3 separate regions of the Homo sapiens genome follow, and all the other regions are linked to region 2. The links come from fine-mapping of genetic effects on gene expression. A gene starts in region 2. Each other region holds a variant in brackets. All regions are shown on one strand. Distances are between the middles of the regions.

Region 1 (10,507 bases), 61 kb before region 2:
CCATAATTTTAGGTGTCTGAAGAAATAAGCTGCCATCTGCAGATCCACCATGCCACCTTTACACTGATCTTCCGTAGCACGCACAAGAGCAAGCTCATCAGAGACCTTCCCAGAGGCAGAGAGCACGCGCCTCACCAGCTTCTCCAACACGCCCACAGTGATCTGCTTGTTTGGGACCTGTTGCCCCTTCTGCAGCTGGTGCAAGGAGTCTTTCCTTAAGAAATGCCCTTGTGCCCAGGAGAGAGTAGGCTCTGGAAACTGCTGTAACAGTTGTACAGAGAAGACAATGCCAGCTGCGTGCGTCTCGTGGTCTTTCTTCATCCTTTAACTCATCTGTGTCTTTATTAAAATGACTCTCTGGGCTGGGCATGGTGACGCACGCCTGTCGTCCCAGCAGTTCTGGAGGCTGAGGCAGAGGATCCACTTGAGCCCAGGAATTTGAGACCAGGCTGGGCAACACAGTGAGATGTCATCTCTACAAAATATAAACAATTGGCCAGTTGTGGTGGCGCACACTTGCTACTCAGAAGGCTGAGGTGGGAGGATTGCTGGAGCCTGGCAGATTGAAGCTGCAGTGAGCCGTGATTGTGCCACTGCACTCCAGCCTGGGTGACACAGTGAGATCCTCTCTCTTGAAATAACAGTGCCTTTGTAGTAGACAGCATATACTTTGGTCTTAATTTTCTATACAGCTTGAAAATCTTTGGCATTTAACTGGAGTGTTGTTTATGTCATTGTTACCAATAAATTAATGAGATGGTCAGGTTCAAGTCCACCCTCTTTCCATTTCCATTTGTCCTATCCGTTCTTTATTCCCTTTTAAAAGTGAATTTCCAGGCCAGGCGCGGTGGCTCACGCCTGTAATCCCAGCAATTTGGGAGGCAGAGGCAGGCAGATCACGAGGTCAAGAGTTCGAGACAAGCCTGGCCAACATGTTGAAACGCTGTCTCTACTAAAAATATAAAAATTAGCTGGGCATGATGGCGGGTACCTGTAGCCCAGCTACTCGGGATGCTGAGGCAGGAGAATTGCTTGAACCCAGGAGACAGAGGCTGCAGTGAGCCAAGATCACATGACTGCACTCCAGACTGGTGGCAGAGCAAGACTCCATCTGAAAAAAAAAAAAAAAAAGAATTTCCTGTCTGCCTTTTGTAAAACAAACATAAAATTCAAAGCCCCCTCAGACCATCTGAATGGACCGCTGTATCAGGGAGGGCATTTCCAAGGCTAACCTGAAGGGCTGGCTCCGGCCATGATGGGGGCAGGGGTCAGACATGACTCATGATACCGCCTTTTGGAATTATTGATAGAACAGACTCTTTAAGCCTCATGAGAATCTGTTCCCTCTGAAGCCTGCCACCTGGAGGCTGCATCTGCATGGTGAAAGTTTGGTCTCCACAGCCCCTTATTATAACCCAGACATTCCTTTCTGTTGATTCCAGGTCTTTAGATAATAACTCTTTCAACCAATTGCCAATCAGAAACATTTTAGATCTACCTATAACCTGGAAGCCTCCCACAGCCCCTGTTCCAGACCAAACTAACGTACATCTTACATGTATTTGATTGATGTCTCATGTCTCCCTAAAAATAAATTAGTCTGTGTCCTGACCACCCTGGGCACATGTTCTCAGGACCTCCTGAGGCTGCGTCATGAGCCATTGGTCACTCATACTTGGCTCAGAATAAATCTCTTCAAATATTTCACAGTTTGACTCTTTGTCAACACTTTGGATTGAGTGTTCTTTCAAATTATACTTTGTCTCCTCTGTTGGCTTGTTCTTTCTCTCTTTGCCTCTCTCTCTGGTATTGTTAGTGGCTGCCCCAGGGTTACCACACACATCTCTGGCTCATCACACTCACTAGACCATCTCCCCTTTCCCCCAGGGCTGTCACACACATCTCTGGCTCATCACACTCACTAGACCATCTCCCCTTTCCCCCAGGGCTGTCACACGCATCTCTAGCTCATCACACTCACCAGACCATTTCTTTCCCCATTCTTTGTGTCGTGTCATTCGTTTTACTTCTACATATGGTATTAATGCCAACATATATTATTTTTGCTTTCAACAGTTGTTTTTAAAGAAAATAATGATTGTGTAGCTAATTTGTGTGAGTGTCTACCCAAATGCTTGCAAGTGCGGGCGCTCCCCAGGCCTTCGGCAGACCCTGGCTTCTATCTGGCTTTGCTTTCCAGCAGCTGAAGCTCCTTCCTCCTGCACTTCTCCTACTAGAGGTCTCTGTCTGAAAAGGCATACTTTGCCTCCATTCAGAAATGTATGTTCACTGAATACAGACTTCCCAGCTGACAGTGTTTGCTTCAGCTCTTCACTAATGTTTCTGAAGATAAGCCACTTAGATTTGTATGGAACTGGGTTTTCCTGATGAAGAGGCACTGTGCTTGTGCGTGACTGTGACTCATTCCTCTTTGCTGGTGTGTAGTACGTGTCCTAAGCAGCTTTGTGTGTGTTCACTTGGAACCACCCCATGAGGTAAGTAGGATTATTATCTCCACTTATAAGAAAACCAAGGTTTAAAGAATTGCAGGAATTTGCTCAGGGGCACCTGGAGAGTGACAGATGGAGGACCTGGCAGAGGGGGGACCTGGCCAGTGTTAAAGCTTCTCTGCTGATCCCAGTGCCTTGAAGGTGCTGTTCATTCTGTGAAGAGTGGACTCCTGGCAGGCGTCCACTTCTCAGTACAATGCTCCCTCAACTTGTGCTGCAGTTGGCCTTGGTTCCTCCATCACGGACCACAGAAAGCCTTACCTCTGCTCGGCTGTCCGCCCCTCGGCTTCCTTAGGACCTCTGCCGGGGGAGCACACTGCGCGGGGATGTGGTTTCCCTGTTCTGTTCCCTGGGAGGAGCACGCTGCGCGGGGATGTGGTTTCCCCTGCTGTTTGGGAAACCTGCCCGCAGTTATTTCTCCTTTCCGTATGCTCAGATTCTCCCCTTTTCTCTCTTGCTTGCTCAGTTTGATGCTTGCTCAATTCTCATTACCCGAGAGCAGCTCTCCCTGGCCTCTGCCTTGCCTCCAGCTACATCTCGCCGCACCCACTACCCGTCGGGCCCAGCACACAAACTGAATGGCCCGAGATGCCACCGTGATGGTCTGTTTCTGATTCTCACCATACCTTAAAACTCCCTTCTTTTGTTCTGTCACACTCGTACTTCTCCCCATTCTTATCTTGCTGGTCTTTGTTCCTTCCACTGGCCCTGCTTCATTCACTCCTCAGTGTTTACTGAGCACTGTGCACCAGATGCTATAGACTTGGGGACAGGCTTGTGCCTAAAAACACGACTTCAGAAGCCTGACGAATGGGGGCCCAGATCACAACACACGTGCTTGAGCTTGAGACCTGTCTTAAAGAAAAAAAATTGACAACTCTCTGAGGCACTAGTTCAATTTTTTTCTTGACGGCATCTAGCGCTGTTGCCCAGGCTGGAGTGCAGTGGTGCCATCATGGCTCACTGCAGCCTTGACTTCCTGGGCTCAAGCAATCCTCCCACCTCTGCCTTCTGAGCAGCCAGGAGTATAGGCATGTGCCACCACACCTGGCTAATTTTTATATTTTTTTGTAGAGATGGGTTTTCACTATGTTGCCCAGGCTGGTCTTGAGCTCCTAGGCTCAAACAATCTGCCCACCTTGGCCTCCCAAAGGGCTGGGATTATAGGCTTGAGCCACCGCGCCCCACTGGTGTGTAATTTTAATCCTAACATCATTTGCCTGATGTGCAGGAAGTCAGTACACTGAGACACTGGGGATTGCAGCAGAGACGGAGCTTAACACCCAGAGGGGAACTGAACAAGAGACAGAGGAAGCCTTGAACGCGCCTCTCAGAGGAGTTTGGGGCTGGGGATTTTAAGGGTTTCGGAGTGGCCGAGGTGTGGGAGTTGCTGATGGGTTGAAGAGTGCAGGCTAAAATCATGGGATGGGGGGATGAAGAA[C/A]CTGCATTCTCATGCCGCCTCAGCGCCCTGTGGGAGCCTTTGACTGGTTGATGTCAGCTGTTCTGCTGGAATTGAGGATCTGAAAAACATATTAAGCAATGTTTAAAGCCTTATGGTTCTAACGTCAGTGGTCCTATCTATGAGAATAATGGGGGTGCAAATGATCAGTATCCAGGGCTACAAGACTTCCAGTTACAAGGAAGTGGGCCAAAGTGCAGCCTGATTCATGCTTAGTTATGACTCCATTTCTGCCCAGAACCCGGCGTGTAATTCCTGCTAACCCATTGAGGACAGTTTGAGGTTCAAGAAGATATTCTAGAAATAAAATAAAAACAATTTTTTATTAAAAAGAAAAATAAGAAATAATATAAAAACATAAAACAATCTTTTATTAAAAAGAAAACCAAGAAACAATAATCTGATAATAGAGGCCACCAAGAGAAAAGCTAACCAGAAACAAAGATGGACAGTGAACTATGAGTGGGGAGGGGTGAGGCCAGCCCTTCTTCTCATTAGACCTTCCAGTTGGTTTACTTAGAAAGATTAGTGCTAAGGAAAGTGACAGCAAAGAAGTTGAAGGGGAAGAGGCAATGTAGAATGTCAAAAAAGAACACTTCCTGGAACAGAAGTCCGGAGTCTTCCAGTCTGAAGGCTCAGTGGGTGGCTGGCAGAGGCCAAATGAAAGTGGACACACACCGAGACACTCTTGTGAGATACCAAAAGTCCAGGAACAGAAGATTCCAAAAGTGACATGAAAGAACTACAGGTTAGTTAACAAAATGGCATCAGACTTTAGAGCTAGAAAATAGAAGACTATGGCAGTGCAATCCCTTCAAAGTTCTGAGGGAAAGTGATTTTGAGCCTAGAGTTTTTATGTAGACCAACAATCAAACACAAGTGTAAAATAAAAACAGTCCAGCCAGGATTCAGGAAATTTGTCTCCCAGGCATTCTTTCTGAGAAGATCATTTAAGAATCTACCTAATGAGGCCCGGCACAGTGGCTCACGCCTATAATCAGCACTTTGGGAGGCCGAGGTGGGTGGATCACCTGAGGTCAGAAGTTCGAGACCAGCCTGGCTTTTTCTCTACTGAAAATACAAAAATTAGCTGGGCGTGGTGGCGTGTGCCTGTAATCCCAGCTACTCAGGAGGCTGAGGCAGGTTAGGAGTTTGAGACCAGCCTGGCTAAATGGCAACACCCCATGTCTACTGAAAATACAAAAATTAGCTGGGCGTGGTGGTGTACCTGTAATCCCAGTTACTTGGGAAGCTGAGGCAGGAGAATCGCTTGAACCCAAGAAGCAGAGATTGTAGTGAGCTGAGATCGTGCCACTGCACTCTCCAGCCTGGGCAACAGAGTGAGACTGTCTCAAAAAAAAAAAAAAAAAAAGAATCTACTTAATAAAACCAGAAGACAAGAAAAAGAGAAGACTGAGATCCAAGGAGTGGAACTACACAGGAATGCAGAGAAAATGGGTTCCAGGATCACAGCTATGCAGGGGCTCAAAAGCCAAATGATGTGGCCGGAAGTAGGGGTGCATCGAATTGTGCCTGGGAATGGCCAGGGCACTCTACTCTGGCCTGGGAAACACAGTGAGACCTCGTCTCTTAAAAAAAAAGAGGCAAATGATTCATTGTATTATTATTATTATTTGTATTTTTAGTAGAGATGGGGTTTAACTATGTTAGCCAGGATGGTCTCAATCTCCTGACCTCATGATCCGCCTGCCTCGGCCTCCCAAAGTGCTGGGATTACAGGCGTGAGCCACTGCGCCCAGCTGATTCATTGTATTATTTATATTATTTTTATTTATTAATTTATTTTTTGAGACAGGGTCTCACTCTGTCGCCCAGGCTGGAGTGCAGTGGTGCGATCATAGCTCACTGCAGCCTCAACTTCACAGGCTCAAGTGATCCTGCCACCTCAGCCTCCTGAGAAGCTGGGACTACAGGCAAGCACCAGCATGCCTGGCTAATTGTTAAATTTTTTTGTAGAGCTGAGGTCTGTTATCCAGGCTGGTCTCAAACTCCTGGCCTCCAGCAATCCTTCCACCTCAGCCTCCCAAAGTACTGGGATTATAGGTGTTAGCCACCATGCCTGGCCCATAGTTCAATTTAAAAAACTATTAGGCCAGGCGCGGTGGCTCACGCCTGTAATCCCAGTACTTTTGGAGGCCACGGCAGGCGGATCACAAGGTCAGGAGTTTGAAACCAGCCTGACCAATATGGTGAAACCCCATCTCTACTAAAAATACAAAAAAAATTAGCCAGGCGTGGTGGCACACGCTTGTAATCCCAGCTTCTCAGGAGGCTGAGGCAGGAGAATTGCTTGAACCCAGGAGGCTGAGGTTGCAGTGAGCCGAGATTGCGCCACTGCACTCCCGTCTCAAAACCAAAACCAAACTACTTATCCGAGGGCCAGGTGCCGTGGCTTACAGCTGTAATCCTGTCACTTTGGGAGGCTGAGGCGTGCAGATCACTTGAGGTCAGGAGTTTGAGACCAGCCTGGACAACAGTGAAACCCTGTCTCTACTAAAAATACAAAAATTAGCCAGGTGTGGTTGCACACACCTGTAATCTCAGCTACTCCAGAGGCTAAGGCAGGAGAATCACTTGAACCTGGGAAGCGGAGGTTGCAGTGAGCTGAGATTGCACCACTGTACCCGAGCCTGAATGACAGAGTGAGCCTCCATATAAAAAAAAAAACCACGAAAACCCCAAAACAACAAGAAAACCACTATTAGAGGATTCTGATAAATGATTTTTTTTTTTTTTTTGAGACAGAGTCTCGCTCTGTCACCCAGGCTGGAGTGCAATGGTGCAATCTCGGCTCACTGCAAGCTCATCCTCCTGGGTTCAAGCGATTCTCCTGCCTCAGCCTCCCAAGTAGCTGGGACTACAGGTACGAGCCACTACGCCCAGCTAATTTTTGTATTTTTTGTAGAGATGGGGTTTCACCATGTTGGACAGGCTGGTCTGGAATTCCTGACCTCATGATCCTCCTGCCTCGGCCTCCTAGTGTTGGGATTACAGGCTTGAGCCACCGTGACCAGCTCCGAAATGTGTGTTTTAAGAAAAAAATTGGGTTTATGCAAACTGTGATAAGGAAATTATCTTAGTGATAAGACAAAAGGCATCTTTTTTTTTTTTTTTTTTTGGTCATCAGTAGCAATTAAAAACTCCAGGAAAAAAAAAAGCTGGACAAAAATGCCATAGTGCAAATATAAAGCAAGTTAAAACATGACATACATTTTCAGCTTTAATGGAATGTGGAAAGAAATAGCTTGTCTTTGATGCTTAGAATATTCTTTGAGCTGCACAAACAAAGGATTACATTTCTCTTTTTTTTGAGACAGAGTCTCGCTCTGTCGCCCAGGCTGGAGTGCAGTGGTGCGATCTTGGCTCACTGCAAGCTCTGCCCCCCAGGTTCAAGTGATTTTCCTGCCTCAGCCTCCCGAGTAGCTGGGACTACAGGCGTGCGCCACCACGCCTGGCTAATTTTTTGTTTGGTAGAGACGGGTTTCACTGTGTTAGCCAGGATGGTCTTGATCTTCTGACCTCGTGATCCGCCGCCTCGGCCTCCCAAAGTGCTGGGATTACAGGTGTGAGCCACTGTGCCTGGCCTGCCAATACAGGAGGTTTTCATGAGAAACTGAGTATATTCATGGATCGAGAGAATAGGGTTTCAATATGTCCATTACAATTACAAAGGTAACCCATAAAATAACTGATGACAACAGTGGATTAGGTTGGGAGGAGAGCGGGCGGGGAAGTGCAATTACTTTGGGTTGGCTGATTCCTTGTGTTTTATGGTAAAGAAACAACACAGTGGGTGGGGCCATTTTGTTTTCTTAATAATTTGTCATTACTTTTAAACATTCTTTTGACACAAAATTAAAAAAATACAAAATGGTATATGCATAGAAAAGATTCTCGCATACCTGCTCGCAGCCTTCCAGAACTCCATTCTGGAGTTGAGCCGTCGTTATTCACACGTACACGGGCCGCACACACAGTGGTGGCAGGACGGCACTGCTCTCTTTTCTTACGTGGTATTTCTTGACACTCACTCCAAATGGACATCTAGATCTTGGTTCAAGCTGCATGGTCAGAATATCACACATGCATGGACTTAGCACATGGTCTGTTTCCTTATTGAAGGACATTTAAGGTATTTTCTGTGTGTGCGAGAACAGTACTAGAAATCATTCTACGTGAGTGAAAGGAACTTACTGGGTCAAAGGTGTGGGCATTTTCGAATTTAATATACCCTCACAAATTTACCTGAGAGACCATCATTTCACAATGTCTCAGATCCCTCGAGCTGACCTCCCTCACCAGAGCCCACCAGCCTGTCCCCCATCACTGCTGGGCCTCTCACTCTCACATGGCCCAACTGTCACCTCTGCCCCCTCCAGCCCTTTCTGAATTCAGTCTGTTGACAAAACCTCCATCTCCTAAACGTTCTTACTAGGCGGTCCTAACACCTGCACTCCTCTTCCCCTGAACTTCCCGGGCTGCTGCACAAGGCCTGGGCCTGGCCACTGCCTGGTTTCTCCTTCCAAACCCACCACAGGGTGCCCATGCCTCCGTGGAGGGGGCAGAGGCCCGCTGCTCACTTCGTGACCCTCCCCCTGGGGCTGCATCTGGGGCGAGGCCCTCCCTTCTGCCCATTGCTGCTTCCAGGCCATGCTCCTTCCATGCTGCTGGACACCCCGGCGGGGGTGCGCCCTTCTCACTGGCTGGCCCACCTCCAGGCCTCAGGGCTGTCCTGCACTCAGGGCCTCCATCACTGGCTCCTGTCACCGTCCCTGACTGCTGGACGACCATCAGGTCTTGTCTCCCATGCTCTGGCCCCAGTTCCCCGTCTGTCCTCACCCAGACCATCATTGCCAACAGCTGCGCCCTCCAAGCTTACCTCCTAAATCTTCATGTTACATGACCCCCCCACCCTCCAGCCTAGGGCCATGGTCACCGTCACAACCAATGTCTCCCCCGGCACCACACCTATGGCCAGCCCTCACCTGCCCCCACTCCCTGTGCCCTCGATCCTGCCCTCTCCTGGGATATTAGGGCCTTGCTGCAGGACAATGCCCAGTCACCTGCCACTGAAATGCAGCTCTGCTCCTGCGACCTCTTGGAGTCATTCTCAGCCGCTGTTCATCTGTTCTTGAAAGCAGGTCTGCCCTCACGGTACCCGTTTCCTCTGCTCCCACTCTCTTAAAGCTAATGAAGAACTCACTTATCCGAAGGCTTGTTGCTGGTCTTCTTGCTGACTTCTAGTTCTGTTAACATTAAACTCATCAGTACTTTGTCGTACATTTTATCCAAGATGGTTCCAGTTTTTTTTTTTTTTTGAGATGGAGTTTTGCTCTGTCATCCAGGCTGGAGAGCAGTGGCGTGATCTCAGCTCACTGTAAGCTCCGCCTCCCGGGTTCACGCCATTCTCCTGCCTCAGCCTCCCCAGCAACTGGGACTACAGACGCCTGCCGCCACGTTGGGCTTTTTTTTTTGTATTTTCAGTACAGACGGGGTTTCACTGTGTTAGCCAGGATGGTCTCGATCTCCTGACCTCGTGATCCGCCCGCCTCAGACTCCCAAAGTGCTGGGATTACAGGGATGAGCCATGGTGCCCGGCAAGGGTTCCAGTTTTTTTAACCTTGTTTTCCCCCATGTTGACTTTAAAAGATGTCATTTAATGTCAATCCTTTTTTAAAAAAATCGATGTGAATTCACTAGATCACTTAGTGGAAAAACACAAATAAAGGGGCAACGGGTCCAAAAATCTTAGAAAGGAGGACTATATTTTTCTTTTTCTGAGTTCTATTGTACAGCATGGTGAATACAGTCAAAAATTGAGTATTGTACATTTCAAAATTGCTAAGAGTAAATTTCAGATGTTCTCACTACAAAAATGTTAAGTATTTGAGGTGATGGATGTAACTAGCTTGACTAGTCCACAATGTATGCATAATTTATAAGATCACTTTATACTCTATAAATTTATACAATAATAGTCAATTTACAAAAAAAGTATCTTATGATTATGGTTTCATATATATGTATTTTTTTACACGTAAATACTTGACCACTTGGAACTTCCCTTAGTATAAAAAGGAGTCTAATCCAACTTTTCTCTTTTCAAGGTGGCCCAAACTTCTGAGCATGGGTAGTTGTTGCAAAGTTCCAGTTCCTGATCACACACGGCCCCTTTGTGCCACGCCGAGTTCCTGTGTATTTGGCTTATTTGTGGACTTTCTTGTTCCAGGAATCTTTTTAAAGGGCCAGCATCATGCTGTTTCAATTACAATGTTCTAAAAACAGCAGAATTTAAAACAATTTGACTAGTCTGGCATATTTGCTTTTCTGTTTTAACTTTAGAATCCGCTTGTGTTTTAAAGGAAGGTTTTACATCTTAAGATACTGTATAGCAAAATGTGAGAATCAACAGAACTTTCACTTATTCAGGGCCTGTGTTCCTTAGTAATGTTATAATACCTTTCACATAGGTGTTTCCCTATTTGTTACTAGGTATTTTATCTTTTTTGGGGGTTGC
Region 2 (10,507 bases):
AGCCACATGGACGAGACCTCCATAGTCACACAACAACCTCCATAGTCACATAGCGACCTCCATAGGCACACAGTAACCTCCATGGTCACACAGCGACCTCCACAGCCACATGGGACGTGACCTCCATAGTCACACAGCGACCTCCACGGCCACATGCGACGTGACCTCCATGGTCACAGAGACCTCCACAGCCACATGGATGAGACCTCCATAGTCACACAGCGACCTCCATAGTCACATAGCGACCTCCATAGTCACACAGCAACCTCCACAGTCACACAGCGACCTCCACAGCCACACGGGATGTGACCTCCATACTCCCACACAGACCTCCATAGCCACACGGACGAGAGAGACCTCCATAGTCACACAGCGACCTCCACAGCCACACGGAACGCGACTTCCATGGTCACACAGTGACCTCCACAGCCACACGGGACGCGACCTCCACAGTCACACAGCAACCTCCACAGTCACATAGACAAGACGTCCACAGCCACAAAGGACGAGACCTCCATAGTCACACAGCAACCTCCACAGCCACACAGACAAGATGTCCACAGCCACATGGGACGTGACCTCCACAGTCACACAGCGACCTCCACAGCCACACGGGACGAGACCTCCATAGTCACATAGCTACCTCCAGAGTCATATAGCGACCTTCACAGCCACACAGGATGAGACCTGTGTGGCTGTGGAGGTCCCATTCCTACGCTGGGCCTGCAGCTTGGGTGTGAGGGAAGGATGCCACCTAATACAAAGGACTAACCTCTCTCTTTCACTGACCATTATCACCTGGTATCAACATGTCATGAAGACAACTACTCCGTGACTCAAGAAAGACAGCCTGGCTTTCCTCAGAACTTGCATGTCAGCCGGGTGCAATGGCTCACGCCTGGAATCCCAGCACTTCGGGAGGCCAAGGCAGGAGGACTGTTTGAGTCCAGGAGTTCCCAAGGAGCCTGGACAACATAGGGAGGCCACACCTCTCTCTCTCTTTTTTTTTAAAGGGCCTGAGAGGTTTGTTTTTGTGCAACAAAAAACAAAAAAACCAGTTCTAAATCAAAACACAGCCTTTCTCTGAAACCTTTCTAGAAATGCAGTCTTCAGTTTTCTGTTGTCTCATTTAGCAACAAGCAGGACTAAAACATAGAGACACAAGACACAGAAGATGCACTTTCTTCAGGAGTTAGTTATTACAGACCGAAATTCAGGTCGTTCAATGGAAAAGATCCATGCCTTCACAACATTCTCCTCTACACACTACAGGAGGAAAATGATAAAAACAAAGTAACAAACAGAAACAACAGGCCAGCTGAGGCCCAAAAAGTGTAAGTGACAGGACTCCTAAGGTGTTTAGACGTAGAGGGAGAGTGAGCAAAACCAAAAACCAAACACGAAACCAAACCTTTCAAACTTGGGTGAGAATTGGTCCTTTCACATAAGATTCTTTGGCAAAGTATACACCACCCCACCTATACAAAAACTGAGACTTTATTTTGAAACACCAAGTCAAATGTATTGCCTGCTTGATCAGACATCAGTAATTTCACATTTGCTTTTCTTAGATTTCTATCCCATTTGCTTCCAATAGATCTGAGGCAGCTCATGCTTCAGACTCTGTGAGAGGCCAGAAGCCCACCTGTGCGTGGAGAGATGATCACAAGTAAGTGAATCAACTGATTCCACATATCCCCTGGTGGGGCAGCACCTCCAGAGATGCCCCTGGAATTTGCGATGTCTCATTCCAAGGAGGAACCAGTGACTGTCATTTTGGGGTAAGCACTCCTAGTTCTCAGGGTTTCAAGACAGACACCTAAGGCACCTACAAACATTGTTCATAATATCTAGTGATTGTTTTATAAGACATATCACTGTGTACAAGGTGTTGCAAAGTAATTCCGCCTTTTTAAGTAAAAATAATGAGGCAGCAGATATCAGACAGCCAAATCTCCAGGAAAAGAGTAGTAAGAAGCTTTAGCTGTAAGGTATCATATTTTATTAAACCAAAGACCTCTGAGAGTTCAGGTGGGACTCGTTTCTAGTCAAGACACAGTACAAGAACTGTATTAACTTTCTGCCTGAAATAACCACAAAATCAGGCAAAATATACGAAGCAACAGTTTTCGAAGCACTGAGTACTGGGCTATGAAAGACAGTGAATCTCAGAAAGATGGGAGACAAACAGGCCCCAACTGCTCAGCTTCCTGTGTGAAGAGCTTCCAGGTTGTGGTGTGGGGGCCCTGAGTAGCTGGGACTACAGGCATGCAACACCCCACTAGGCTAATTTTTAAATTTTTTGTAGAGATGGGGTTTCACCATGTTGCCTAGGCTGGTCTCGAACTCCTGGGCTCAAGCGATCAGGCCACCTCAGCCCCCCAAAGTGCTGGGATTACAGGTGTGAGCCACTGAGCCCAGACTCTCAATACTGTTAAGAATTTAATTCTCCTACATTGATCTGTAGATTCTATATACCGTCAATCAAAATCTTAGCACACTTTCTTATACAAATTGGCCGATTCTAAAATTCACATGGAAACACAAGGGACCAAGAATAGCCAGAAACCTGTGCAAATGTATGAAGCTGGGGGGCCAACACACCCTGATTTCACAACTCACTCCTCCTACTCCTACGTGGTTTTTGACAAAGGAGCAAAGGCAATTCAGTAGGGGAAAAGAGACTGAAAAACTGGACATTTGCAGGGAAAACACTGACTCTAGACTTTTCTTTGTATTTTTTTGAAATGGAGTCTCACTCTGTTGCTCAGGCTGGAGTACAGTGGCACAACCTCGGCTCACTGCAACCTCCGCCTCCCGGGTTCAAGCGATTCTCCGGCCTCAGCCTCCCAAGTAGCTGGGATTACAGGTGCCTGCCACCACGCCCGGCTAATTTTTTGTACTTTTAGTAGAGATGGGGTTTCACCATGTTGGCCAGGCTGGTCTCAAAATCCTGACGCTCAGGCGATCTACCCACCTTGGCCTCCCAAAGTGCTGGGATTACAGGCATGAGCCACTGCACCCGACTCTGACTCTAGATTTGTATTTCACAATATATACAAAAATTCACTCTACATAGATCGTAGACCTAGATGTAAAACCTAAAACTCTAAAATGTCTGGAAGAAAGTATAAGAGAAAACTTTGTGACCTCAGATTAAGCAAGATTTCTTGGATACTAAAAGCACAATCCATAGAAGAACAAACTGATACATGTGACTTGAAAACTTAAAACAATTACTCTTCAAATGGCACAGTTAAGAGAATCAAAAGACAAGTTGAAGACTAGGCAGAAAGTATTTGCAAGGCGAATATCTGATACAGGACTTGTATCCAGAATACATAATAAACTCAAATACTCAATAATAAGAAAATAACCAACCCAATAAAAATGAGCAAAATATTTAAATAGACACTTCGTCAACGAAGATACATAGAATGGCAAGTAAATACAAAGATGCTTAGCATCAGAGGGAAATGCAAACTAAAACTACAATGACACTCCACCACACACCCACAAGCACAGCTAAAGTTACAGACTGAGGACACCACACGCTGGTGGCGGAGTGGAACTGGAGCTCCCATACACTGCTGGGAGAGACGCACACGCTGGTGGCGGAGTGGAACCGGAGCTCCCATACACTGCTGGGAGAGACGCAAAAGGGGCAGTCACTTGCAAAAACAAGAAATTCCGTACAAAGTTAAACATACATTTTCCATATGACCCTGAGAACTTACTTCTAGATAAAGAAGTAAGCAGAACTCACCTGAGAGGAGTAAGAATATATGTCCAAACAAAGGGTTATTCACAAATGTTTACAGCAGCTTTATTTAAAACAACCCAAGGCCAGGCGCGGTGGCTTATGCTGGTAAACCCAGCACTTTGAGAGACCGAGGTGGGTGGATCACCTGAGGTCAGGAGTTTGAGACCAGCCTGCCCAACATGGCGAAACCCCGACTCTACTAAAAATACAAAAATTAGCCAGGCGTGGTGGCAGGTGCCTGTAATCCCAGCGACTCGGGAGGCTGAGGCAGGAGAATCGCTTGAACCTGCGAGGTGGAGGTTGCAGTGAGCCAAGATCGTGCCATGGCACTCCAGCCTGGGCCACAAGAGTGAAACTCCGTCTCAAAGAACAAACAAACAAAAAACCCCAAACATGGACACCCAAATGTCCATTAACTGGTGAATGGATAAAACAACTGTGGTATACCCATTCTACTAGGTAATAAATTACAATCACACTGCGTTGTGCATGAATCTCAAAAGCACTGTCCTAAGTGAAAGCCAGATACAAAAGACTATGAAATACATGACTGCATTTAGATAAGGTTCTAGAAATCGCAAAATATAGTAACAGAAAGCAAATGGGGGACCGCCAAGGGCTAGGAGTCAGGGGAGAGGGCTGACTGCAAAAGTGGTCATGGCAATTTCGGGGGTGGTAGCAATATTCTACCATTCTACCAAGAAAGATTCCATCTTGACCGTGGTGCCGGTTACGTAACTGCATGCATCTGTTAAAACTTCCTGAAGTGCACATTATATGTAGACTCTATCTCAAAGCTGGTAAGAAAACATCATCCACTTACACTTCAGACAAAGAATGGATGTATGTACACCAAACTGTCAACAGTAGTTTTCTTTGGGTGGTAGGAGTATAGGTGATTGAAGTCTTCTTTTTTGTATTTTTTATAATTTTTACAATGCAGTCACTTGCATATCCAGAAAAAAAGTTTTTTTAATTCAAGCCTTTTAATAGAAATAATTGTATGACACATCGTGACCTAAAATATAGATATTAGACTACTGAATGAATGTTACTTTACAAAAAGAAGACACCAGAAAAAAAGTCGCTTATAAATAAAATATCCAAGTATGGTAAAATGTACTTTTTTGTTACTTCAGAAACGGAACACCATCACTTTGAATTAAATGCTACCAAATCTGTTTGAATACCTTAAAGGCAACCACTAATCACAAAACACAACAGAGAACAAAACCACTTTTTCTGAATTTTGAATTTTTTCAAAATCTGTTTGAATATCTTAAAGGCAACCATTAATCACAAAACACAACAGAGAAAAGACCCTCTTATTACTGTGGCAAGTGACACAGTCATGAGTTTTACATATAACGAGAAAATAATTTGCCGTATACTTGCAAAATATGAGTCACGTGGCTCCTAGAAACACACCTCCTTCTCTTCCGTAATGGGATAACTTTAAATATGGTTCTAAGCAGCTTAAGCCTGAAAACAAAAATTCCACCACGGCAATAAACAAAACCACTTGTTGCCTCTGGGGCTCCCGGCCCTGCAGTGGAGGCAAACGCCCTGCCTTTCCGCTCCCCGGCGAGAGCCTGCGAGGCACCCGGAGCGGCCGCCCGGCCGCGTCTGCGTCACGCGGGGCAGGAGCGGCGTCCCCAGCCCCGGCCGCCGCCTCACCTGGTAGAGCTCCTCGAGGTTGTACCTGATGGAGGTGCTGCTCTGCACGGCCCGCACCGCCTCGTGCAGCTTCCGCCACGTGTCCTGCGTGTAGTTGTCGGGCAGCCGAGGTCTGTCTGCAGGGCGGAGGGAGAGCGGGCGGCTCAGGGCGCGCCGCGAAGCGCCCCGCGTAGCCACCCCCGACCCGGCCGGCGCCCCGGCGCCCCCGCTCCCGGGGCCCGCACGGATCTCGGGGCCTTCCCCCCAAGTCGGGCGGGGTCTCGTGGGGTCCCCGCCCGGGGCGCCTGGCCCTCGACCCGGCCGCCGCACCCACCTCGGAAGTTCTTGATGACCAGCTTCTTGGAGCCGCCCGCGCCCCCCGGCTTGGCGGGCGCGGCGGCCAGGGCCGCGGGCTTGGTGAGGCCGTTGGTGCGGCCCACGAGCGCCGAGAAGCTGCCCTTCCGCGGGGCCTCGTCCGCCATGGCTGGGCCGGAACCGCCGCGCCCCGCCCCGAGCGCCGCCGCCCGCCGAGCTCCGCTCCGCCCGCCCCGGTCCGCGCGGCCTCCGCCCCGTCCTCCTCGCGCGCCCCGCCCCGCCCCGCCCGCGTGCCCGAGCCCAACCGCCGCCGCGCCCGGCTACTCCTGAGGGCTTAGGAACGCGCGCCGGGAATCCCTCCTGAGGGATCGGACTCCCCCTAAGAGATTCGGACACCCCCTCCTGGCTCGAGGGCGCGCGCCGGGACTCCCGTCCTGAGGGATCGGGACCCTCACCCCCGGCTCCGGGGGGCGCACCGAGACCCTGCCCCCAGGGCTCCGGGCACCCCCTCCTGGCTCGGGGATGCGTGCCGCGGGCACCCCTCCTGAGGGGATCGGGAGCCGGGACACCCTCCTGAGGGCCCCGGGGCGCGCGCCTCCTGAGGGCTCGGCACCCCCACCCCGGGCGTGAGACCACCTCGAGGGCTCAGGGGTGCGCGCCGGGACGTGCCCTAACTCCTGCAGGCTCGGGAGCGCGCGGCGGAGGCACCTTATGAGAGCTCGGGAGCGCGCGCCATGTCCCTCCCCCTCCCCCTCCTCGGGCGCGCGCGCCCCGAGGCCCTGGCCCAGCCAGGCGCGGAGGGTCCTCCGCGGCCTGGTTTTCACAAGGGGCAGACGAAGGGTCAGCGCAGTGAAAGGCAGTTTAGCCGTGGGGCTGTCCTCGCCACTGGACCCCAAACCCCTCAGCCCGGGCGGGCCCGAACACACAATCAGAGCCGCTGGCGTCCCGGCTGAGAGGACGGGGCCCCGGCAGAAAGACCCCGGGCCCCCTCAGCCCGAGCGCGTCGCCGAGCCGGTCCCCAGGTTCTCCCTCCGGAACCAACCTGCGCACCCGCGGCGGGGCCGGGGGCGCCAGGACCCAGACGGACCGAGGGCCGGAAGTGACGCCAGCTGGCCCGCTTGAGGCGTAGGGGGTGGCGCTCTCCGTTCGGCGGCGCTCCCATGGCGCACATTACCATTAACCAGTACCTGCAGCAGGTGGGTCCTAGCCGGGGAGCGCGCGGCGGCGTGGTTGGCCCTCGGCGTGTTCCGTGTGTCCCCTCCTGCCTTGGACCCTCAGGCCTTTTCCTTTCCCGCCTCGCCACCCTTCTTCCGTTCGGGTCCCCGGCGGGCAGCCGCGCGAGCCGAACAGCGGCGGCCGGGACTCGGGAAGGCGGCCCGAGTTCTCCCCTGCAGGGCCGCCGTGGGGGCCGGGCGGTGTCCGTGGATCGCGGAGTCGTCGCGGTGTAAGTAGACGCGGCGGTCCCAGGTCGCTGCCCTCACTTGCTGGCACGTGTGGCCGCGCTCCCAGGCGGTCCGAAGGGCCTGCGGGCCACGCCGAGGGCCCGCTGTGGGCGGTGCTGTGTCGGATGGACGCTGTTTCCCAGCAGGATGCGGGATGAATTCGGGGACTCCAGGAGGCGATGGAGGAGTAAGCGCGAGGCTGTGGCCGTGCTGCAGGCCGGGCTCGTGCCCCTCGTCCTCGCTGTCGTTTAACGCCCTTCACTCTCCGAGCACAATGCACACTTCATATCGCTCGGTACATGCGTCTGACAGATGTTGTTCAACAGCTTGTAAGTAGCAGAAGCACAGTTAAAAGATGGACACTTGTAAAGATTCAACGCATATTCTTTCCACTAAACTATGCCTGTCTTCAGAACCAGCACTGTGGTAACAGGGATAGGAAATATAGGGAATGGATTTTTAAAATATTTGAAGGAAACATTACCAAGACGTGGTGAATAAGAATGGGTGGGCTGAGGGACACGGAGGAGTTAAGAATGATTCCCAGGCTTGTAATCTGGGAAAAAGATGAATAGAGTGGATTTGGAGGGAGAAATAAAGTTTTGGGCATGTTGAGTTTGAGGTGTCTGTTGACAACTGGGTAAAGATACGTACTTGATAGCTGAAAAGTCTGACATGATTGGGCCCAGCAGTTGCTTGGTTAATTGAGAAAACTGGTTAAAACAGGAATCACGAAGAAATGGATGTATGTTTTTAACTTAAAACATGAAAGTATACATTCACTTGCCAATTTTTTTTTTACACCACTTACCTCAAGTTCTATACTTGCCAATCTTTTGATGTAAGCCCAGGGCCTTTTCTTTAGGCTGTGTCTGTTTTGGCCTAATCTTAGCAGACTTAACATTTTCCAATATCAGTTTATTTAAAGTTAAACAAGGATATAGGCATTTAAGAACCAATTTGATACGATTATCTTTAGAATTTTCTTAATCTTTTACAATTTTTCCCCCATACCTAATTATTTTTTTAACAAACTCAAGTGAGCCTTTTAAAAACATACAACTTAGCTTATAGAGAAACAACTGTTTCCTTTTGCATTCATATTTCATTGATGAGCTTAAAAGTACATAACTACCATAACAGGTTCGGGTAGCAAAAATAGATTTGAGAACAAACACATCTGGATATGAGAACACATACAACTTAGCTGGCAAAAGCTTGCGATGTATTAGAGTGAAGCCTACTTGCTGAAAGTCGTCATCATACCTTGGGCATCAGCTCGTGTATTTCAGGGAGGGATTGGAGAGAGTCATTTTTCCAATTCAAGTCAGTTAAAGTGAGACTGATAAGCGAGCTTCTACTCTATGTGTGTAAACTGAAGTTTAAACAGACAGATTTGGGTTAAAGATACAAACCTGAGACTCCTTCGTAGTCACATGATGGGAAAGACTGAGAAGGGAAGGGGTGACCCAGGGAACAAGTAGAGAGAGTAGACAGGGGCTGGGCCCAGGATGGACTTCTATGGAGATGTGCATGCCTACATCTCCGCAAAGGGCAGTGTAGCCACTGGGGTGAGACAGCAAAAAGTCCGCTTCCTCCTAATTCTGATGGATAAAAATATTTCTGGTTGAACTGGCATGTTACCTAAGTTTTATGTATTAACAGATTCTTGAATATTTTAAGAAAATAGGTGCCTCTTCGATACAGAATGGCAACCGGTTATACATGGTAACACATGTTTGATTTGTTGTATAGGAACATAAGTGCCAATGTCACTGTATCTCTTTGGGAATAAAACCATCATTTGCACATTCATCAAAGCTAGGAAGTTGGGGGAAATCATTGACTCCTCCTTTAGTCTCAGCAAATAGTCCTTTACCTAATTGGATGTATCTCCGAAGTCTCTCAGATCCATCCCTTCTTTATCTGTTGCCACATGCTCCCCAGCCAGGACGCCCTGCTGCAGGTACTGGTTGATGGTTTCCTTTACTTTGCCCTTTCCAAGTGAGACACAGCAAAGAGACCATAGACTTTAAAGACAATAAGACTTCAGCCCAAATCCTGGCATTTTTACTAATTCTGGGACCATGACAAGTTATCTAACTTCTGTGACTCTCCATCTCTAAACAGGCTTCACATAAGTTGTGAGAATTAAAAAGACCATGAATTCACAGTAAATGCATTTACTTAGTAAATGATAGTTCTGGTATTTTATTGAAGAAGAGTTGAGCATCTGCCTCTGTTACTAAAACTTCATTGACTCTCTGTTTCCTCCAGGGAAAGTTCCAAATGCTTTAGCACATCATCTGGTCCATGTTTACCTGTTAACTTGGCATCACCAGTCTGAAGGTTTATTTCACTTATGCTGAATGCACCATTGCCCCACCGAAGTACTCATAACTTAAAATATACCATTTAACCATTTTAAAGTACACAATTAAGTACATTCACAATATTGCACAACCATCACCATTATCCAGAATTTTTTGTCACCCCAAATGGAAATGTCATAAGCATTAAGCAGTCACTCCCTGGTCCTCCCTCCCGAGCGCTTGTCAACCGCTAATGTGCTCTCTGTCTGTATGGATTTGCTGACTCTGGTGATTTCAGTATGTGGCTTTTGTGTGTCTTTCCCTTGCATCATGTTTTCAGGGTTCATCTGTGTTGGAACATGTGTCAGTGTGTCGTTCTTTTTTATGGCTAATGATATTCCATTGTATGGAGTATTTTGTTTATCCATTCATCAGTTGATGGACCACTTCAGTTGTTTCCTCTTTTTGGCTGTTGTGCTGCTGCTGTGAACATTCTTGCGCAGGTTTTGTATTCTTTTTGGCATATACCTAAGAGTGGAATTGCTGAGTCATATGGTAATTCTGTGTTTAACTTGTTAAAGAAATGCCAAAGCAGCTAGCTGCATCATTTTACATTTTCACCAGCAATGTATGAGGGTTGCAATTTCTTCACTTTCTTGTCAATGCTTGTTTTTTTCCATTCTTTTTATTATGGCCATCCTGCTGGGTGCGGAGTGGTATCTTCTTGTGGCACCCCATGATCTTTCTTGTCCCAAAGATTTTCTTCATTATGTTCCTTTTGCCAAGAACACCTCTCTTTTTTACAGGTGTAGTGAACATCTTTATTTAGGGAATCAGCTTTGAGTTAGATACTTTACTCCTTAATCTTCAGTAGTTCTTCATATTGTCTTTCAAGAGTTTATGGAATTGGAAAGTTTGACTATTCAGAAGTGACTTCAGAGGTTCATGACCTGTAATGATTTTGAATTTTTAAAAGAGTTATGAGTTCCAAGAGTAGATGGTGCCTCCTGTGGACCAGA
Region 3 (10,507 bases), 50 kb after region 2:
CGGGACTGGACCACTGCACTCCAGGCTGGGTGACAGATTGAGACTCCATCTCAAAAAAAACAAACCAAAAACAAATGAATGGTTAACTTCTAAACCAGCCAAGGAGGGGAAAAGGAGAACAAAAATGAATGCCAAACTAGAGAAATTTAGTGAACAAAGTAACAAAGCTAGAATGCCAGGCCAGCAGCCGAGAGCAGAGATTTTGAGATGCTTATGTTCTGAGAAAATGACATTGGTAACAGTTTGGAACTGCAGAGGAAAGGTCTTGGGGGCTGTAAATAATGCTGTCCTTTTGTATTAGTTATGAACTCGGCATTAGAACATGGTTGGAAGTGTGAATAGAGGTTGGTCAGTGCAGTCAGTAGCCCATCAAAGTCAGGATGCCTGATTCACTTAGTTGTCAACATTTCTATTTAGGAAATGACAAGTGAGGTGAAAGTCATAACAATAAATTGAAGCACGCGGAGAGCGCTCTGTTACCTGCCACGGGAGGTCCTGTAGATCCGGTGCACGCTTCTCAGAGGTCAGCACCCCGCAGGCACACTGGTCTGCATTTGCGGCAGCAACATGAGAATAAAAATCAGCGCCTTCTCAGCGAATATCGGACTCTGTCTATGGTGTTAACCGTTGCATAATTCCGTCTATGGTACTAACCATTATAATCTTATCCTTAATGCTGATGAATGTGCAGTAATTCACAGACACACAGACTGGAGTTAAACCACCCCTCACAGCACTCATGGTTTAGCTCAGAGTGGTCCGAGCAAGCACTAGTGACAGAAACTGCACTTTCTAGCATGGCCATTGCTCCAGCGTGGAGACGCGGACCACCTTCTGAGTCGTGGCAACTGCTTATCACAAATCCGCGGGCTTCACCCAGTACTACAGAAGGAAGGAGGATGTGGACGGGGTCGCTGGCATTGGAAGCTGGAGGCCGCTGTGGTCTGAGCACTCACCGTGGGGCACACACTGTTTGTGGTCCTCACCAAGCCTGTAGCCCTGAGCACAGCTGCATGTGTAGGATTCCTGTCCTGGGAGGCAGAAGTGTTGACACCCATCAGTCCGCTCTGGGTGACATTCATTTTTAGCTGAAAAGGAAAAAAAAAAAAGGAAATGCTAGCTTGGAAATAGTCATTTTATCACAGCCTTGCACACAGTTCTGTGTGTTGGTCCATGTTCATTTTATCACAGCCTTGCACACAAGAGTTCTGGTGTGTTGGTCCATGTGTTCTCATTCTCTTCAGATCGTTGTCCTCTGTGTCAGTGTTTCCCACATGTCCGTATTTCAGGAATGTGCATGTAGAACAAAGACTCCGTGAGTGAGGCCGGGCGCGGTGGCTCATGCCTGTAATCCCAGCACTTTGGGAGGCCGAGGTGGGCGGATCACGAGGTCAGGAGATCAAGACCAGCCTGGCCAACATGGTGAAACCCCATCTCTACTAAAAATACAAAAATTAGCCAGGCGTGGTGGCGCGTGCCTGTAGTCCCAGTTACTCGGGAGGCTGAGGCAGGAGAATCACTTGAACCCAGGAGGCAAAAGGTTGCAGTGAGCTGACATCGCGTCACTGCACTCCAGCCTGGCGACAGAGCGAGACTCCATCTCAAAAATAAAATAAAAATTAAAAAAAAAAAAAGACTCCATGAGTGATGACACTTCTATTTGTCCTTTTTCCACATGGACTAATCCACGCGCCTGTTTTGTCTGCCGGCTTGCATTGGCTATTCCCTTTAAATTGCTGCTTCTTCAAGGAGGGGACGTGGGATGGGAGGGGGTTAGTGTGACATCGGTGGTGGCTGAGCAGCTGGGATGGGGGCTTTCCACCAAGAGGGAGAAGATTAAGAAAGGGGCACATGGTGGGTGAAGGTCAAAGCCCCCTTTGGTACGTGGTAAATTTGGGGTGTCTGTGAAGGCATTAGCTGGGGCATCAAGGAGGCAGATGGAGCAGAAATCTGGACTTCGGAGGAGAGGGCTCGGCTGGGAGGAAGGTTTTCCCCAGAGAAACGGGCTCCAAGTTGACCAGTGGTGCTGAGAGCGGAGCACGCTTGTTGCTGTAGTTGGCGATGATGGACACTGACATTTGGCGGGTATTTAAGGATATTTGTTTACGTGCTTTGCGTCTTCCCTGTCTGCAGTCTCCCACTGGGAGTCTGGCACTGAGGACGCCTGTGTGTGACCCCCCCAGCCTGTGAGCAGATTGTGAATGGTTGAGGTGGTGGGGGGAGGAGAGGGGCCCCTGCTATGAAAAGTATGGGGGCCTGTCTGGAAGGGGCAGCTCAGAATGCAGCCAGCCCCCGGCGTGGTTTCTGGAGGAGAATCTGGTTGGGATGAGAGGAATCCCCTGGGGTGAGCCAAATCGCGGTTCACACAGGCACCTTCATGGCTACACCTCAGGAGGGGCCCATTGGGACTCTGGCCGAGGATGTGAGGCCCACCTGCCCAGGGAGGCCCTTGGGGGAAGGGGACGGCCGGGGCCTCACCCAGCTCGCAGTTGCTGCCCTCATAGCCGGGGGAGCAGGTGCAGGTGTAGCCCCAGATGCTGTCCTGGCAAGAGCCGTTGTGGAGGCAGGGCTGGGAGATGCACGGGGAGCCGCCTGCAGGAGGAGGATGGGGGTTGGGGTGGTGGTGACAGGAACGGGGACCTGAGCAGGAGGAGGGTGGGGGTGGTGACAGGAATGGGGACCTGAGCAGGAGGAGGATGGAGTGGGGGGTGGCAGCAGGGACGGGGACCTGAGCACCTGAGCAGGAGGAGGGTGGGGTGACAGGAACAGGGACCAGAGCAGGAGGAGGACAGAGTGGAGCAGGGACGGGGACCTGAGCAGGAGGAGGATGGGGGGACGTGGCAGGGACGGGGACCTGAGCAGGAGGAGGATGTGGGGAGGTGGCAGGGACGGGGACCTGAGCAGGAGGAGGATGTGGGGAGGTGGCAGGGACGGGGACCTGAGCAGGAGGAGGATGTGAGGAGGTGGCAGGGACGGGGACCTGAGCAGGAGGAGGATGAGGGGACGTGGCAGGGACGGGGACCTGAGCAGGAGGAGGATGTGGGGAGGTGGCAGGGACGGGGACCTGAGCAGGAGGAGGATGTGGGGAGGTGGCAGGGACGGGGACCTGAGCAGGAGGAGGATGTGGGGAGGTGGCAGGGACGGGGACCTGAGCAGGAGGAGGATGTGGGGAGGTGGCAGGGACGGGGACCTGAGCAGGAGGAGGATGAGGGGACGTGGCAGGGACGGGGACCTGAGCAGGAGGAGGATGTGGGGAGGTGGCAGGGACGGGGACCTGAGCAGGAGGAGGATGTGGGGAGGTGGCAGGGACGGGGACCTGAGCAGGAGGAGGATGTGGGGAGGTGGCAGGGACGGGGACCTGAGCAGGAGGAGGATGGGGGGACGTGGCAGGGACGGGGACCTGAGCAGGAGGAGGATGTGGGGACGTGGCAGGGACGGGGACCTGAGCAGGAGGAGGATGTGGGGACGTGGCAGGGACGGGGACCTGAGCAGGAGGAGGATGGGGGGAGGTGGCAGGGACGAGGACCTGAGCAGGAGGAGGATGTGGGGACGTGGCAGGGACGGGGACCTGAGCAGGAGGAGGATGTGAGGAGGTGGCAGGGACGAGGACCTGAGCAGGAGGAGGATGTGGGGAGGTGGCAGGGACGGGGACCTGAGCAGGAGGAGGATGGGGGGAGGTGGCAGGGACGGGGACCTGAGCAGGAGGAGGATGTGGGGACGTGGCAGGGACGGGGACCTGAGCAGGAGGAGGATGGGGGGACGTGGCAGGGACGGGGACCTGAGCAGGAGGAGGATGTGAGGAGGTGGCAGGGACGGGGACCTGAGCAGGAGGAGGACGGGGGGGCAGGGGGTGGCAGGAATGGGGACTGAGCCTGCTCATGCTGCTCCCCATGCCATCGCCTGGCCCCCAGGACGCTCCCCGCTCCGGATGTAAGGCCTGGCTGCCAGTGCCTCCCACTCTGCTGGGTGCCCTTTCTTCGTCCGCACGCGGTCCCCTCTGTCCCGCCCCATCAGCCCTTCTCCGGCCTTCCCTGCCTCTCCCGCTTCCTTCTGTGCCCAGTTGTCCCCGTGCTTGTCTGGTGGTGGCTGCAGCTCTTTGCTTACTCATTCCCAGGTGGGTCCTTACCCTGGCCTCCCCCAGCCCCGTGGGTCTCCATCTGTGTTACTTCTGTCCCATGCTCTTCTGCAGTTGCCCACCTAGAGCTCCTCCCTTGGGAGGAGTCTCCTAACCAAAGTCTCCATCGGGGCCATGACTTTCCAAAATTTGAGACGAGTTCTGACCCTGCTGCAGCATGAGGCTTCCCAGGAGCCCAGGAGCCAGGCGGCTGGAGGAGCTGCTCTGGGGGGGCCCTCCTGGCCTGTGGCCCATGTCCCAGAGTGCCAAGAAACTACCCAGACACTGGGCAAGACAAACCAGGCACTGCCTGTGGCCCTGGTGGCAGAGCCCGGGGGCTTCCTGACCTGGTCCTTGGGGAGAGTCGGAGCTGCCCTTCCCTGGAGAGACACCGTGGGTCCTGGAGCCAGAGGCTTGGCATCCGCTGAGCTGGGGTCGTGAAGCGTCCTAAGCCCACCCACGCACCTCATCCCGAGGAATTAATACTTCTGAGGAGACGAAGGAAACCACTTACCCTTATATCGTCTCCAGAATTCATCCTTTAGAGTTAAAACATAAAAATGTTACAAATGGGATATTTGTTTTTCTATATTCTTTCCTGTAGATGAACTTGAAGGTAAGAAAATGTTGATTTTATTCACTTAATAGGACAATAGTGGTTGAAACAATGCACAATTTTCCTGTTTTACAGCCTATTTGTTTATGTTAAATGTATAGTAACTAAATGTATCTGTAAGATATATTACTCAACATGTGCTTACCACCACCTATTTGAGGAAGGCCAGAGTCTATGACATGGCACAAACCCACCACCCACAGCCCCTAACGTGGCCCTTCCCTTCTAGGGCCAATCTCCACGCCACCCTCCACAAAAGCACATGATATAGAAGTCACATCACCTTTTCGCTTTTTATAAACCGAGTTGAATTTTAAAGATATATACCTCTGTAGGGAGTGGGGACACTTAGTTTGGGGTAGGAGTATCTAAAATTAGGAGAATTATTCAGACTTGAAGCCTAGAAAGAAAATGTATGCTGGGTGTCTGATCAGTGTGTGGGCCTTGCCTGACCTGAAGAAATGAGTCCAGTGGGCTCTGAGCTGACTTCCAGCCCCACTCACTGCTGTAGGGAAAGGTGGATTAAGTCGATTCTCTAAATTGTTTCCTCATCTGTAAAACTGGGATTGTGTCAACCTCATCGGTAAGTAAATAGG[C/GC]TAATTAATTAAGCTTAATCTCTGAGAAATGATGCTCCCTGGGCCAGCAGAAGTCTAAATAATGAGGAGGCCTGTGGTTTGTGGTGGGGGTACATACAGTGACTACTTCATTTTCAAACACTTCTCTTGCTTCTTCATAGACACAGATTTCTTCATAACATTCTTTTTCCAAGTTTCCCTCGAAGAGTTCTTCCAGAAGATAGGAGCCCGCACGCTTCCACCTCACCAGAACGTCGTTTGCTTTGGAGGCCGGGAGAAATACTACAGACGAGACAAGAAGGCAGGTGACTGGGAGCACCGAGGGCCCTGCTTTCCAGAGCTGCCTGGCTTCCTCCCCGGCCGGCCGCCAGCCCCAGCCCCGTCCGTCTCCACAGGCTCTCAGCCTGCGAGGGCCTCAGGGCCACCCCGCTACTCCCTCCCCCGAGGTAGGCAAGCACTTCATCCTCTGGGCGAATGGATCAGCCCCAGGATCAGTGCGGATACACTAAGGTTCTGCAGAGAGGCCACGGGCCTCAGTCAGGAAAGTGGAGGAGGGAGGGCTCCAACTGGGTTTTGGGTCTGAGTGCGAAGGAAGGCTGAGCTGGGGTCAAAGGTCCCCGTACTGAGAACTGGGGACCAAGAGCCATCAGCTCCTGTGCTGCCTCTGTGCGCAGCATTTAACATCTTGATAAAACACATAAAGAAGAAACTTATACATTGCAGCAGGCTCTGCGATTTCCAGGAGGAGAAGGCAAATGAGTTGACCCGCGGCAGTGGTCTCTGGAGCCTCTTCCCACCTGAGGGTCCCAAAGCATGTTCTCTCCCTCTCCGGGAGGGTCAAAGCCCAGGCCCTTCCCATCCTCCCTCCTTTTCTCTCGGTGCTGAGGGTTACAGCAGGGGGGGCTCAGCTAAGTCCGGCTACGGTAAGTGCTGGGCAGGGCAGGGCGGGGGGATCACCCTCTCAGGGTGGGAGACCATGGGGCCAGCGGGAGACCATGGGGCCAGCGGGGATGCTGGGTGTTTTGACTTGCAGCTTTCCTGGACGCCTGTGCAGGCAGAGTCAGAATGGAGTCCATGTCGTTCCTTCAGTGAAGTGGCTGGTGGTAGAAGGGTGGCAGGCAGGCAGGGTGGCTGCTCCCTGGCTATGTCTCCTGACTCAAGACTGGGCATTCCTGGCTGGCCTGGCCAAGGCTCTCTCTGCCCACATTGCAGTCTGGGCTCAGCCTGCCCCACCCCCTCCCCTCGTCCAATGCCCAACCCAGGCCTCCCCCCACTCCTCCCCCTTTCCCCCTCCCCTCTCCCCGGCCTTTCCCGGCTGAATCCCCTGCACACAGGCTTCTTTCCATTTGGGCATCTCTTGGGAGGACCCCAAGTGACACTATCATGTCCCAAATACTTGTCACCAAATGATAAAGATCCAAACAGCTTTTTCAGGGGAATTAAGACTAGTCTGGGCACTCAGGGCTCCTCTGGCTCCTGGAAAAAGCCTCATCTACAAATCCACCATGGACCGAGTCAAGAAAGACACAGCACAGGCACAACAGACAGGTAAGCCAGATGCCTACCTGAGGGCTCCACACGATGGAGGGCGAGGACCAGGACCAGGCCCTGGAGCAGTGGGACGCAGCCTGCCATTCCCACCCGGAGCGCTGGGACAGGGCTACAAACACAGCCAAAGTCCAGGCTGGGGGAGGTGCCGGCAGCAGGAGCCTCGGGGCACGACCTGTGCAGCTGTGTGCTTCCCTCCTGACGTTTTCTGTTTGAGGCCAGGCAGAGAAATGAACGGTGAAGGCTCAGAGGACCCTGGGAGATATTTAGGGAGACAGAGAACAGAAGGTAAAGGCAGCAGGTGCAAGGTGGAAGGTGGCACCCATGCCCGTGTGTGGTCAATGGAGGTGAGATAGGCCCTGGGGACACAGCACTGGGCGGGACAGACAAAGTCACATGCAGCTTACGTTCTAGGTGTGTGTGGAATACACAGAAAAGAACGAGGGAAAGAGACAGGAGGGAGTGAGGGAGGGAAAGCAGGAGGATGGAAAGAAGGAAGGGGAGAAAAGGAAGGGAGGGAGGGAGGAGGGAGAAAGCGGGGAAGGGCCAAATAGTGTCTGTCACTACAGCTCAGCACCATTGTAGCAGAGGCAGCATAGACAATCATGAATGAACACTTGGCTGTGTGCCAATAAAGCTTTATTTATAAGAGCTATTAAGGGGCCAGATTTGGCCCCAGGGTTGTCGTTTGCTGCTTTCAGATGTAGGCCCTGTGTATTAGTCCCTTCTTACACTGTTATGAAGAAATAGCCAAGACTGGGTAATTTAAGAAAAGAGGTTTAGTTGACTCCCAGTTCCACATGGCTGGGGAGGCCTCAGGAAACTTATAATTATGGCAGAAGGCACCTCTTCACAGGGTGGCAGCAGAGAGAATGACTGAAGCAGGGGAAATGCCAGATCCTTATAAAACCATCAAATCTCTTGAGACTCACTCACTATCCCAAGAATAGCATGGTGGAAACCACCCCCATGATTCAATTACCTCCCACCGGGTCCCTCCCAGGACACGTGGGGACTATGGGGATTACAATTCAAGATAAGATTTCGGTGGGGACACAGCCAAACCATATCAGCCCTTGAAGCCTGAGGTAAGAACCTGGTGTTTCATTTTCACTGTGTTGGGAAGATATTGGAGGGAACAGGAATTGACATGGAAAGATTTGTGCTCTGAAGGGATCACTGGGCTGCTGTGTGGAGAACAGAACATTCCAGAGAAGTCAAAAGGGAGGCTGCCGGCTAGTCCAGGAGGGGGTGAGGGTGCAGCCATGCAGCAGGAAGCACGTTTGCAGTCTGGATGCTTCAGGAAGGGAAAGCTGATGGGATTCATGATGAATTGTGTCGGGCAGCACGGCTCCAAGGTTTGGGCTGAGCGATTGGGAGGATGGCAGTGCGTGTGCTGAGACGGCCAAGCTCCAGGAGGGCAGAGGGAAGCGAGGTTTGGCAAATTTGAGGTGTCTGTGGGATGTCCAGGTGGAGACAGGAGTGGGCATCCGAGAAGCTGGGACTCACAGTGGAGATTCAGGTGGTAACAGATGAAATGACAGCATTGTCAGCATATAGATATTGTTCGATTGAATGACACTCAAAGGTGGCAAAACTCAATGAAAGGATTCTAAATACAATTTTGTTAAAGTGGGAACAGAAGAAAACTAAGAAGCTGACACCCTTGATTAAGAGGGCATGCCCGCAAATACACTGAAGTTGTGAAGTTTGCTTTAAAAAGCTGGGAAAAGAAAATAAAGTTTATCTTTAGTGAGTGAGTTAAAATAATTTGAAAGCCAGAAGTTGATTGTATAGGATAGCTCTTGGGTGAATTGCACCAGCCTGGCAATCTACGTGGCCTTCACTTAAGAAAAGGTGCCTTTTTTTGTGTGAAAATGTATTCCCACATGGAAATTTACATTAAAAATACTTCTGCTGGATAGTTTAAAAACCATCAATAGCTGCCTAAAAATGGAAAGGCAGACAGGGACATACACATTCGATCAATAAGTGTTAATTAAGCACATCCTATATGCCTGACATGGGTATCTGAGCTACAACCTCTTCCCTCATGGACCATTTTAGTCTGTTGGGGCTGCTGTAACAAAACACCTTAGAGTGGGTAATTTACGATAAACAGAAACGTAGTGCTCACAGTTCTGGAGGATGGGAAGTCCAAGATCAAGGCTCCAGTAGACTCAGTGTCTGGTGACGGCCCATGATTCATAGACGTGTCCTTGGATGGTGGAAGGGAGGAATGTGGGTGCTCCCTGGAGCCTCTTTTGGGAGGGCAGTCATCCATCCATGAAGGCAGAGTGCCTCCCAGAGGCCCCACCTCCTAGTACTATTGCACAGGGGGTTAGGTTTCAACGTGAGTTTTGGGGGATGGTTTGGCTCTGTGTCCCCAACCAAATCTCACCTTGAATTGTAATAATCCCCACAGGTCAAGGGCAGGACCAGGTGGAGGTGATTGAATCATGGAGGTGGTTCTTGTGATAGTGAGTGCATTCTCACAAGAGCTAATGATTTTATAAGGGGCTTCCCCCTGTGATTGACACACATTTTCTCTCTCCTGCCACCCTGTGAAGAGGTGCCTGCTTGCCATGATTATGTTTCCTGAGGCCTCCCCAGCCATGTGGAACTGTGAGTTCATTAAACCGCTTTTCTTTATAAATTACCTAGTCTCAAGTATTTCTTCACAGTGACATGAGAACAGACTAATACAGGAAGGCATCAACATCGAGGCCACAGCTGTGATTGACTGTGTTGTACGTGGACTGACCGTGTTGTATGTGGTGATTTAATTTTCTCATCTGCCTTCTCAAAGATACCACCTTTGGACCAAAAATTCTACAATAATAAATTGTCCAAACATTAAGATTCACCTCGTTCTACTCATCTTCCTCATCTCTCATATGAATAATCGTTCTTCTGTCACCCTCTTCTGTTCTGAAAAACAAACCAACCAACATTGGGACACTTTTTCCATTGACTGGTTTACTTTCCTTCTGTATACCTGAGGAGAATCTTCCTTCCTTTGGGGTCTTTGTCGTGTCCTTCAGATGTTGGGGTGTCCTCTGTGGGGGTCCCCAGCTTAAATCAACTGACCCCACAACTTTGTGTGGAACCTGAAATGAGCAGCCTATGGAGAACCTGGTCATTGAATACTTAGATCTTGCCGCAGTCCCTATTTAAATACCTGTTCAATCAACTCTGGGACCTATGTTTTAGATTTCAACATCTCTGAATTGGCCTGTTCCCTACAGCCAATGTTCTAATGTCAGCCTGGACAAGGCCGAGTTCTTCCTGAAAGGGGTTGTGCTTTATGTTGCCCCCTGGGGGCACTGCCACTTTGCAATCCCTTTAAATACATTTTTTTGTGTGAGTTTTGGGAGCCCATGTGAATAGTGTAAATGTATTGCAAAGCTGGTTCCTGGCTGGCCTGTGGTTTAGATTATCTGAGCTTCCCCCTCTTGCCTCCAGGCTGAGCTGACCCACAGCTAATTTGGGTATATGCTCTTTCTTTCAGGTTCATCAATAATGGTGCGTCTTAGATTCACAGAGTAGAGTGTGGTCTAGTCCACTTTGTGGTGCTGTAACAGGATATCTGAGACTGGGTAATTTATAAAGAACAGAAATTTATTTCTTACAGTTCTGGAGGCTGGGACATCA

What was found.
Region 1: its variant is fine-mapped to the expression of CUL4A in whole blood (INTERVAL, PIP above 0.99). The same link has a PIP of 0.9 or more in macrophages and monocytes after LPS.
Region 3: its variant is fine-mapped to the expression of CUL4A in whole blood (TOPMed, PIP 0.98).

The regions. Positions count from the first base shown.
Region 1 is chr13:113,266,338-113,276,844 of GRCh38, reverse strand. CUL4A (cullin 4A) reads right to left here. Exons shown (of 20, transcript NM_001008895.4): 20 at 9,737-10,507. It also overlaps the pseudogene LDHBP1. Among named protein-coding and RNA genes, the nearest start is that of MIR8075, 8.7 kb to the right of the region's middle. RefSeq lists enhancers at 1,117-1,411, 2,364-2,863. The variant C/A (reference allele first, on the strand shown) is at 3,952.
Region 2 is chr13:113,205,022-113,215,528 of GRCh38, reverse strand. It overlaps CUL4A (cullin 4A), which reads right to left and starts at 5,916. Exons shown (of 20, transcript NM_001008895.4): 1 at 5,754-5,916; 2 at 5,441-5,556. The coding sequence starts at 5,901. It overlaps PCID2 (PCI domain containing 2), which reads left to right and starts at 6,860. Exons shown (of 14, transcript NM_001127202.4): 1 at 6,860-6,930. The coding sequence starts at 6,895. RefSeq lists silencers at 5,421-5,660, 5,721-6,050, 6,151-6,420, 6,681-6,970 and enhancers at 6,505-7,154, 7,155-7,805.
Region 3 is chr13:113,155,094-113,165,600 of GRCh38, reverse strand. PROZ (protein Z, vitamin K dependent plasma glycoprotein) reads right to left here and starts at 6,953. Exons shown (of 8, transcript NM_003891.3): 1 at 6,871-6,953; 2 at 5,424-5,587; 3 at 4,629-4,653; 4 at 2,479-2,592; 5 at 957-1,088; 6 at 481-548. The coding sequence starts at 6,940. It overlaps LOC124903216 (a long non-coding RNA gene), which reads right to left. Exons shown (of 4, transcript XR_007063880.1): 2 at 10,486-10,507; 3 at 9,721-9,784; 4 at 8,991-9,071. It also overlaps a transcript of PCID2 not described here. RefSeq lists enhancers at 5,739-6,316, 6,893-7,470. The variant C/GC (reference allele first, on the strand shown) is at 5,327.